Linked DNA regions of Homo sapiens: region 1 is linked to region 2. Evidence: fine-mapped expression QTL. A gene starts in region 2. The other region holds a variant in brackets. All regions are shown on one strand. Distances are between the middles of the regions. Region 1 holds the start of LOC105373465 (a long non-coding RNA gene). Region 2 holds the start of RHOB (ras homolog family member B).

Region 1 (5,516 bases), 23 kb after region 2:
ATGAAACCAAATTAGGTGCTCAATGAAACCCAAGAATATTCCAATAAAAGATAAGAGAACTAAGTCAAGGACTTTGAGCTCCCTTTTCTCTAATGTTCATTTTAAAAGCAGCAAACTTAACTCTTAGCAGAATCACCTGCAGGGTTTTCCCAAACTCAGATTCTGAGCCTCGCTCCCAGGGTTTCTGATCCAGTAGGTCTGATCAGGGCCCAAGAAAATGCACTTTTCTCACAAGGTCCAAGGTGATGCTGTGGTCAGCATCACCAGAGAAGCAGAACCAATAGATGCATGTGTGTGTGTGTGTGTGTATGTGTGTGTGTGTGTGTGTGTGTGTAAAAAGATTATTTATAAGAAATTGGGCTCAGTGCAGTGCTTCATGCCTGTAATCCCAGCACTTTGGGAGGCCGAGGTGGGAGGATCACTTGAGCCCAGGAGTTTAAGACCAGCCTGGACAACATGGCAAAACCCCATCTCTACAAAAAAATATACAAAAATTATCTGGGCATAGCTGGGCATAGGCCCAGCCACTCAGGAGGCTGAGGTGAGAGAATCACCTAAGCCCAGAAAGTCAAGGTTGTGGTGAGCCATGATGGCACCACTGCACTCTATCCTGGGCAACAGCGTGAGACCTTGTCTCAAAGATAAGCATATATATATTTCTTTGGAAAGCCAGGCTTTCCAGAAAAAAATTGGCTCACAATTATGGAGGCTGACAAATCCTAAATCTGTAGTCAGGAAGATGGAGACCCAGGAGAGTTACTGGTGTAGTTCCAGTCTAGAAGTCTGCAGGCTGAAGACCTAGGAGGAGCTAATGTTTCAGTTTGAGTCTGAGAACTTAAAAAAAAAATGATGTCCCAGCTCAAAAGCAGTCAAGCAGGAGGCATTCTCCCTTACTTGTGGCAGGGTCAGCCCTTTGTTCTATTCAGGCCTTCAACTGATTGGATGGCGCCCACCCACACTGGGGAGGACAATTTTTATTCAGCCTGACATTTCAAATGTTAACATCAGCCAGATGTGGTGGCTCACGCCTATGATCCTAGCACTTTGGAAGGCTGAGGAGGCAGGCTGCCTGAGGCCAGGAGTTCAAGACCAGCCTGGGTAACATGGTGAAACCCTTCTCTACTAAAAATACAAAAAATTAGCTGAGCATGGTAGTGTGTGTCTGTAGTCCCAGCTACTCAGCAGGCTGAAGCGCGAGAATCGCTTGAACCTGGGAAGTGGAGGTTGCAGTGAGCTGTCTTTAAAAAAAAAAAAAAGTTAACATCATGTTAACATCATCCAGAAACATCTTCACAGAGACACCTAGAATAACATTTGGCCAGATATCCAGGCACCCCATCGCCCAGTCAGGTTGACTCATAAAATTAATTATCACGGATGCTGCTGCTGCTGCTGCTGCTGCTGCTGTGTGACCAAACTTTGAAAATCACTGCTTGGGAGTGTCTGCCTCTCTTTGAGGTGGGGTTAAATCATTATCTCCCCATCTCACAACCTACAGGGGGAACACCTATGATCACAGGACAGGAGTCACAGCAGGATAGACACAGCCAGCCACAGTGGCCAAGCTTGACTGGCTGGCAGACTGTTGGGGGCATAGAGTCTTCGGCTGAGTGGCTGGAATCCTGTGTTGCTCATCATCAGATCCCAAAAGACACTTCATCTCCCTGGGCTCCAGCTTCATTTAGGATCCGCAGATAATACACAGGAACTACTAACACTAAAACATTATTTGCTATTTATCTGAAATTCAAATTTAACCTGCATCCTTTTTCTCTTTTTTCTTTCTTCTTCTTTTTTTTTGCTAAATTTGGCAACAGGGCAGGCCACTGCTGCTGTCATTAGAAAGACTCATTTCAGCCCAGGCAAGGGGAGGAGAGCAAACCCAGAGATGGTAACCTGCTCCCCTGAACCAGAGGAAGCAGAGACCTTCTCACAAGGACCAGGCGAGGGATGTGAGTCGGCCTGAAGGGAGGGTGGGAGATGTCCGGGCTCACTTAACCACAGAAGGGTGGACCTCTCAGACCAACACTGACACCAGCAGTAAACAGGAAATGCCCTCCAACCGCAGGCCTCCTGCTCTTCCTGCCAGGGTCGAGAAGATTCTAATCCAGATTCAGAAGAGGAGCTGACTGGCCTCTGGCAAGCCCAAGCTGGATTACCAGCTGCGGAGGCAGAGGTGCCTGAGGTTTCCCAGCCCCCAGGCCAGAGGAGGCTGCTACACC[C/A]ACTTCCCCCACGAAGCTGGGGCCCAGGCCAGAGAGAGAGCCCCAAAGCTGGTTTGGGGGCGGGGAGCTTCCCTACAGGCCCTGGAGGTACCAGGAGTGGGTGAGGTGCGGGGTGGGTGGCCTCCACAGTCCGGGTACACAGTTTGTCTGGGAGATTTCCTGGTTGCTGGTATGGGGGGGAGGTGTTCTTGTAGCTGCTGCAGGAACCTCTCCCTGTGAGCTCCATGGATGGGAAGTCGGGGTGTGGAGTGTGTAGTACTAGAATCTGCCATCTCCAGCTCTGTGCCTGTTTCCCCCAGCCCCATAGGCCCCAAGACAAAGCAAGAGGAATGAGAGGAAGCACAGCCGGGTCAAAGCTCCGAGCCACGAGTACTGAGGCAGGTGGTGGTACCCAGACCCCCTCTCCATAGCTCCCATGAGAGCACAAGGCGGAGGAGAGGACAGACTCCTGGCCTGAGGGGCCAAGCACCAGCTTCTCAGCCAGCTCTGCCACTGACTTGCTGCTTGGCAAGTCACTTAACTGTTCCAAGCCTCAGTTTTCACTTCTGGAAATGGGGATATGACCCCCTGCCTGCCCCCTCATGCTGGCATAAGAATCAATGACCTGTGACAGGACTTTGTAAATTATAAGTTGGTATTAGTTAGGCCTCTTTAGTCACAAATGTGAGAAACTGACATTAAATGAGGCAATGCAAAAGGGGGATTCACCAGCTCAGAGGCCCAAGACCCAGGGCAGGGAGAGGAGGCGCTGTCATTCCCTCTCACCCCTGCATCTCTCTGCAAGTCAGTCTCTTCTTCCGCAAGCCTGGAGCCAACTTCACCTCCTAAGAGGAGCTTCTCTGCTCTGTCACTACCAACTTGAACAACCACAGGGAGGGCCCTGAATTGTGTCACATGTCCACCCATGGCTGTGAGACACTATCTTATGCAGCTTCTTCTGGAAGCTTCTTATTTTGATTGTTGGCATCAGCATTATAAGTTTGCCACATTTTCCTGATTCCTATCCTCCTTGGACAAAATAACATAGGGGCTAAGGGCACAGGCTCTGGAACCCAGATTACCTGGATTCAAGTTCTGGTTCTGCCATTTTCTCACTGTGTAACGTTGGGCAAGTCGCTTAACTTCTCTGCACCTCAGTTCATAAATCTGTGAAAACTAAATGAGTTGATACATGGGAAGTATGAACAATTGTGCCTGGTGCCGGCCAGGGGTTCAACAAATGTTAATCATTATTATTGTCGGAGAATGAAGGGGCAGTGCCTGGGAATCCCAGGATGAGAGACAGCCTGAAGAAAAACCATCCTGCTCCACCTACTCCTCAACCTTCTTCCGGGGAGAGCTGACAACTGCAGGAGCTATGGCTCAACAAAGATGTACAGAGCTATGCAGTAAGCCCTGAGAATTACAAAACTTGACAGACAAAGTCGCTTTTTCTCCAGAAGCTCATTGCCAAGTAAGGGAGATAGAAGCATGAAGAGATCATTTCTATCCTGTGCTGGATAGAAGCGTGTGTATGTCTCTGTGGGAAGCCACAGTGGGACAACTGGTCCAGAGAGAGCTGCCTGGAAGAAATGACACCTGAGCTAAGGCCTGGAGCAGGGGCAAGAGCTTGCCAAGCAAGGAAAGGAGGGCAGGGCGTTGTGCTGTCCATTGGCTATTCAGTCTCGGCTCCAGATCTCCACTTGTCAGGTTGGCGCTACTGGGGCTTGATCTGTGCAAATTACATGTCCCCAGGTCAGCTGGTTCTGGCAGGTTCTTCCAATAGGGGGCACTAGGAGACTGAGGTCAGGAGGAGAGAAGGCACTTGCTCTTTTGTGCTTGCTTGCTTCTCCCCAGCAAGCTTTTTGCCGCAGAAGCATCCACTGAAGCCTCCAGCTTTCTTCAGCCTCAGCAGCTGGAAGCCATGTGAAGCAGCTGACAAACAGCTGGAGGCTGAGATGCCTGCTGTGGGGGGAGCAACAGTTTAAACCAGTGAGCATGTAGCATCGGAAAGCTTCCCGATGGATGATAGGTAAGGTCGGGTATGCAGATGGCCTTCCTGTGCAGGGCTGGGGACCAGAAAGAGGCAGCTAGGGGCAGGGGCCAGCCCCAGGGCAGGTTCAGAACCAAGACCCCATGTTGTGGGAGAATGGGGCCCATCAGGTGGGGCCTGGGCCCAGGGAGCTCTGGTGCAGATGCATGGAACTAAAGCACCCAAAACCTCCTCTGAGTTCCCAGCACTGATGGTGTTTTCAGAGATCATCGTGGCTCCCAGCCCGGGGAAGCCAGACTCAGGGCCAGGACTCTGAGTGGGGGGTTAGGAGAGGCGGCAGCTCTAAGGATGGAAGTTGGTGCTGACAGCAAGGGGCTGGCTCTATCCTCTGAGTATCTGGGAGCCATCATGGATCAAGGTCTCACTCCCATATTAGGAAAATTCTTTAAAAATTCCTCCGTGCAGTGCAATCTTGATTCTCCAGTGTGGGATGGGAGCATTGTGCCCCAGATATGGGAAGTCCTGGGCCACTTCCCTGGACCAGAAGTGCCGTGTCCCCACAACCCATCAGAGAGCTGGGGAAGTGCCATCCAGGCGAGCCTGAGCAGGTCCCCGGCCTTTCCCAATTCCCACATGTGCAATGGGAATGCAGCCAGTCAGAAGCAAGGGCCTCTGGCTCTGTGCCTCCACAGGGTAAGGCTGACCACAGGACTAGTCAGCCAAGGTTCGTGGACCCCTGCCAGTGCTGGCCTTGGCTCCAGGACAGGAATGTCCCTAAAGAGCTGAGGACCTTCCTTCTAGTGCTGCTCCCGGATGGAGGGCGGGGCACAAAGAACACAGCATGGATACGGAGGACCCAGGCTGTGAGCTGTCACCCTCCACTGGGCCTGGGGATGGTGGAGGGGGAGGATGGATGGAGAGATGGGAGAGGGGGATAAGTGAGGGAAGGAGGAAGGGAGGGAGACAGGGAGGTGGGGGAGAGGAGTCACACTGACGTCCAGGTTATGGACAGAAACGGACAGCTGAGGAGCCCATCAAGGCATACTAATGCCGCTGAGGCCGAGCGCATGTGCCCTCCCTTGGGCAGCTCCACTTCTCTGGGAATTCGTCATATGGCACCTGGCTTGCACTTCAGTCTCTGTGAGTCCATCCAAGGGAGTGAGTCCTACACTCCTATTCAGCTCTGGGAGCCACAGCCTGCTCAAAGAGCATCTGAAGCCACCGAGGCAAGCAGCAGACCTGGTGGCCCCGCTGTGAGCAAATTAGCTCATCTTCCTGGGACCCATAGAGCCGTCGGCCATTCCAAAATATCAGCCTCTTCG
Region 2 (5,000 bases):
TGACTCTCAAAAAGTGGCAGCTCCAACTTTAAGAACCACCAAAACATCCAATGTTCTTTCCACAATATGGCCCTTCTCTGAACTTAGAATAAATCATTCTAGGTTACTTAATAAAGGACATATTGGGATCAAAGCTTGATAATTTTAAAAAATCACCTCTTTATCTGAACTCCCCCACTTCTGGAAGCTCCAGGCCCAAAGATAACAACCTACAACTTCCTGGGATATTGTGTAAACCCCTTGATGGCCTGAAGGGAACCCAGTAAACAGGCTTCCTGATAGCGTGACCCCACACCAACGATTAATAAAGGTTTTCTAAATTTAAAATGCACAAATGATAACTTTCCAAGACTCAAAGAATAAGCAAAGCCCCATAATAGACTTAAAGACACAAGTGTTTTTAAGACACACAGATGAATGAAATCAAGATCTTCGGTCTCACCCAATTGAACTGAGTACATAATAGGTCAAAAGTTTTTGCACTGGGTGTCGGGGTATCCACTCATCTTCCTCTAGGAATGTGACAGGAACAACCTGGTCTCCCTTGGTCACCCAACCCCCACATGCTCTCAAAGGGACTTCATCCTCATTTACTACATTTGCTATAAGGGAAACGGAGTTGGCAAGAAAGGATCTCGCCTAGGAGAATATCTCCCTTGTTCCAAATTCACAAGGGTATTTTTACACACTATTAAACCACAAGAGCCATTTTATAAATGTCATCATCATAGTCTTTTAATATTTTACATAAAAAACTGTATACACAGCTTATAGAACTTTTATGTAAACATCATAAGCTCACCATTTTGTCATTTGTCAGTTTATTTAAAAAATAAAAAACAAGACAACAATTTAGTAGAAGTACCACTGGGAGGGAGGGGAGGGGAAAAAAGGATATACAGGGGCAGGTGTATTCTCTGTACAGAGGTGCAGAGAAAATTTCACATAGCTTTAGAGAATGCCTTGTGGAAAAAAAAAAAATAGGCCCCAATACTTGTTACTGCCCTTTATCAAAACTGTGTGCATGACCTGCACAAATAAAATCACAAAACAGTGTTGCCACATTCTTCAAGGAAACAAAGCAAAATTTAGTGGGTTTCTTTTCCCTCTCCTTGTTAAAAGTCATTTTTTAAAAACATCAGAAGTAGATGAGGTTACAGCGTACAAGTGTGGTCAGAATGCTACTGTCGTATGCAAATGACGAGTGCATTAAGTGTCAAACAATGAAACAATTGTGCAAAGAATAAAAAAACAAATTTTAGCCTTTAAATAAATCAAATAACATCAGTTTCTTGGACTGAACAATTTTCACTTCTAGGACAGGCACAAAGTTCGCTTATGGCAAAAACAACCCCACAGCGCATCCTCCCTCCTCCCTCCGGTAGCTGGTGGAGGGTTCGCAGCGGGCTGGCCCGCAGGAGAGGCTGTGCTGAAGCTGTGTCCTCCCCAAGTCAGTTGCAAATGTCTTCCCCAGGGGTTGGAAAGATGGTCAAGTCCTGTTCATGCTTGGGCGGGAGTCTGGCCCAGCCTGGGCCAGAGCGCTCACCCATCACCACCCTTAAATAACACCATCTTAGCTCCGAAAATAAAATTATATCTATATTTATATAACATCCCCCCATCCTCCCCAGCAGCCCTCCCCTCCCGCAGTACCCGGGGTCTATGTTACAGACAAGGGATATCAAGCTCCCGCTGGTGAAGGGCGAACATCTGATGGGGCGCGGCCACACTCCCGCGCCAATCTCGCCCCCGGGGATCAGAGGCGGGGGTGGGGTGAAAATGGGGCGAGGGGAGTCGAACAGACACACAGCCACACACTCTGAGGCCCGGCTCTTCAGAAAAGCATGCTCAGGGGACCCTTGGCACTCAGTGGGGAGCCCAGGCCTGTGCAACACAGCTGGACGCACACAGACACTGGGATGGGGGCGCCCGGTGCCCACGCCAAGTCCTGGCGCAAGCCAGAGGCGTCAGCAGACAGATGCCAGGCAGGCCGGTGGGGTCCTTGTGGGACACGGGTCTCCCCTTCTCCGGGCTCGCGGGGGACTGGTCCAGGAGGGGGAGCCGTGCCGGCAGGGGCAGGCGCGACGGGCGCGGCCCTCATAGCACCTTGCAGCAGTTGATGCAGCCGTTCTGGGAGCCGTAGCGCTTCTGCAGCGCGGCGCGCGTGGCCGTCTCGAAGACCTCGCGCACGCCTTCCTTGGTCTTGGCAGAGCACTCGAGGTAGTCGTAGGCTTGGATGCGCACGGCCATGGCGCGGCCGTCATCCGTGCGCACGGGTTCCTGCTTCATGCGGGCCAGCTCTGTGCGGACATGCTCGTCGCTGCGCAGGTCTTTTTTGTTGGCCACCAGGATGATGGGCACATTGGGACAGAAGTGCTTCACCTCGGGGACCCACTTCTCGGGGATGTTCTCCAGCGAGTCCGGGCTGTCCACCGAGAAGCACATGAGAATGACGTCGGTGTCCGGGTAGGAGAGCGGCCGCAGGCGGTCGTAGTCCTCCTGGCCCGCCGTGTCCCACAGCGCCAGCTCCACCTGCTTGCCGTCCACCTCAATGTCGGCCACATAGTTCTCGAAGACGGTGGGCACGTACACCTCGGGGAACTCGTCCTTACTGAACACGATCAGCAGGCACGTCTTGCCACACGCGCCGTCGCCCACCACCACCAGCTTCTTGCGGATGGCCGCCATGAGCGGGCCGGGCCCGGGCAGCAGGAGGGGGCCCGCGAACGCCTCGCTGCCCTCCCGCTCGCCGCTCACTGCTCACCTCGGGCTGCGCGCAGGTGGCGAGAGGGTCGCTAGCTGCACCCGGGCCCCGCGGTGGCGCGTTCTCTCGCTGCGCTTCGGCTGCCGCGGCGGGGGCGGTGGGGGCGCGGGGGCATAGGGCGCACCGTGCGTCTCGCCGCGCTGCTCCCGGGCGGTGGTCGCTCTGCTCACCCCAGGCCGGGGATCGGCGGCTTTGTGCGTAACGCGGGCTCGGGCAGCAGACTCGGGCGGTGGACTCGGCCTAGCTCTCTCCCGGGTCTCTCCGGGCCTCGCTGAGCATACAAGACAACAGCTCCAACCAGACTGCGGTGGCAGATGAGGGCTGCGGCCCTAGCGCCCGCTATTTAAAGAGTCCGGCCACTTTCTTAATATAGCCGTCCAATGGGAAACCAGCCGGCTGAGCTCATCGCTGCGGAGCTTAGCTCTGATTGGCCGCCCCCTGCAGCCCGAGGGCGGGGCAGGGCCAGCTTGATTGACGGCCCAGGCCGCCGGGCTGGGAGAGGCAGCGACCGGGGAGTCCGCGCTGCTGCTGCCGCTGCGGGGCTCTGGCGGTACCCGGGTCCCCTCCTTCGCCGCAGCGTTTGCGCGCGGGGTCCGGGAGCTGGCTGTCTGGAGCCTCCAGGGTCTGGGCGAGCGGTTCCGAGACAGGCTTCACTCAGTGGGGCGTTGGCGACTCCCATTCAGAATTGCCCCTCTTCCTGGCAAACTCCCGGCGGGTGGTCGGGCCTGTGGGGGAGGGGCAGCTCTTTTAACGTGGTTTTGTTTTTAAATAAACAGACACACACACACACACACACACACACACACCCCACACACACACTTTTGTTCCCAAACAAGAGTGTTTTCTCTTTTCTTTTGGAGGTGGCCCCTCCTGTGGTTTAGGGCCCCACCCGGGTACTCGCCGTGGGCCAGCCTCGGGTTTGGACCCGAGAGGCGACCGGCTGGCTGCAAACTGGCTCTTCCAAGTCCCGCCGCCCCTACCCTTCCCAACCCCCAGCTTAGGTCTCTAGGTGAAGATTAAGGGAAGAGGTGCGGAGTGGCCCAAGCTTGACAACGGAAAGGGAAGGTCGAGGCTCGAACACTTGGAGGAAGTTACCGGACAGGAAGAAGCCCCTTCGGCCCCTCTTTTCACTATGAACTCTGATCCCGGTTCTTAAAACAGAGAACTGTCTGAGATAAATTGTACAATAGAATATACACTATTGTACAATAGAATGTACAATAGAATATACACTATTGTACAATAGAATGTACAATAGAATATACACTATTGTACAATAGAATGTACAATAGAATATACACTTGTACAATAGAATGTACAATAGAATATACACTATTGTACAATAGAATGTACAATAGAATATACACTATTGTACAATAGAATGTACAATAGAATATACACTATTGTACAATAGAATGTACAATAGAATATACACTATTGTACAATAGAATGTACAATAGAATATACACTATTGTACAATAGAACGTACAATATTCCGGGTTCAATAGAATCCAACCACCCCAAGACCCCTGAGCAGACGAAAAGGCTTGAGGCTGGAGAAGAGGGGAGGAGTAAGGGGCTAGCAAATGGGGCACAGCGGGTTAGGGGGTGTCCCCTCTATTGGGGCGTAGCCTCCTGATGCACGCCAGGACTGAACTCATTTATCCTGTAGATCCTGCATGAAATGACAGTACCGGTGATCCGGAAAGACCCAAGTCAACCGATTTCTACGGATAAAAGAGGAAGAAGGGGATAGGGGGAAAGGGGAGTCGGGGAGGGCTCCCGGGCAGGAGAAACAGCCTGAACACAAGCAGGAAGGTGGGAAGGAGCGGGGCAAACTCTAGGAGCTGCATATGCTGGGGCTCATGAGTGCTAAAGTATTAACAGCATGGGCTGGGCTCTGTCTATCCATTGCATGGGAAATGTCTGCAAACTGTTTTTTCAGCAAAGGAGGGACCCACCACATGACCGGGAGGTGGTTGCCTCCTGTCTCCGTCTCTGTCTCGGTCTCTGTCAGTTGTTGGAGGGCCAGGATTCTGTCTTATCTCCGCATCTTGAAGACCCAGCACAATGCCTGGCATTTACAAGGATCAGTAAATGACTGTGGGGAATTAACCCGAATGCTCAGAAACGCAGGTGGAATTTTCTGGGGGTTTCTTACCTCAGTTCCACACTTCGCTTTAACAATTATCTAACCAGGCCGGGCACAGTACCTCATGCCTGTGATCCCTGGGCG

Evidence for each region. PIP is the estimated chance that this variant, and not a neighbour inherited with it, causes the effect. A credible set is the group of variants that fine-mapping cannot tell apart.
Region 1: its variant is the best candidate, but not a certain one, in a credible set for the expression of RHOB in whole blood (TOPMed, PIP 0.62).

Annotation. Positions count from the first base shown.
Region 1 is chr2:20,421,545-20,427,060 of GRCh38, reverse strand. LOC105373465 (a long non-coding RNA gene) reads left to right here and starts at 2,116. Exons shown (of 5, transcript XR_001739317.2): 1 at 2,116-2,309; 2 at 2,522-4,233. RefSeq lists enhancers at 1,952-2,001, 2,062-2,221, 4,355-4,868. The variant C/A (reference allele first, on the strand shown) is at 2,223.
Region 2 is chr2:20,445,154-20,450,153 of GRCh38, reverse strand. It overlaps RHOB (ras homolog family member B), which reads right to left and starts at 3,080. Exons shown (of 1, transcript NM_004040.4): 1 at 714-3,080. The coding sequence starts at 2,688. The coding sequence ends at 2,098. RefSeq lists silencers at 2,662-2,871, 3,122-3,371.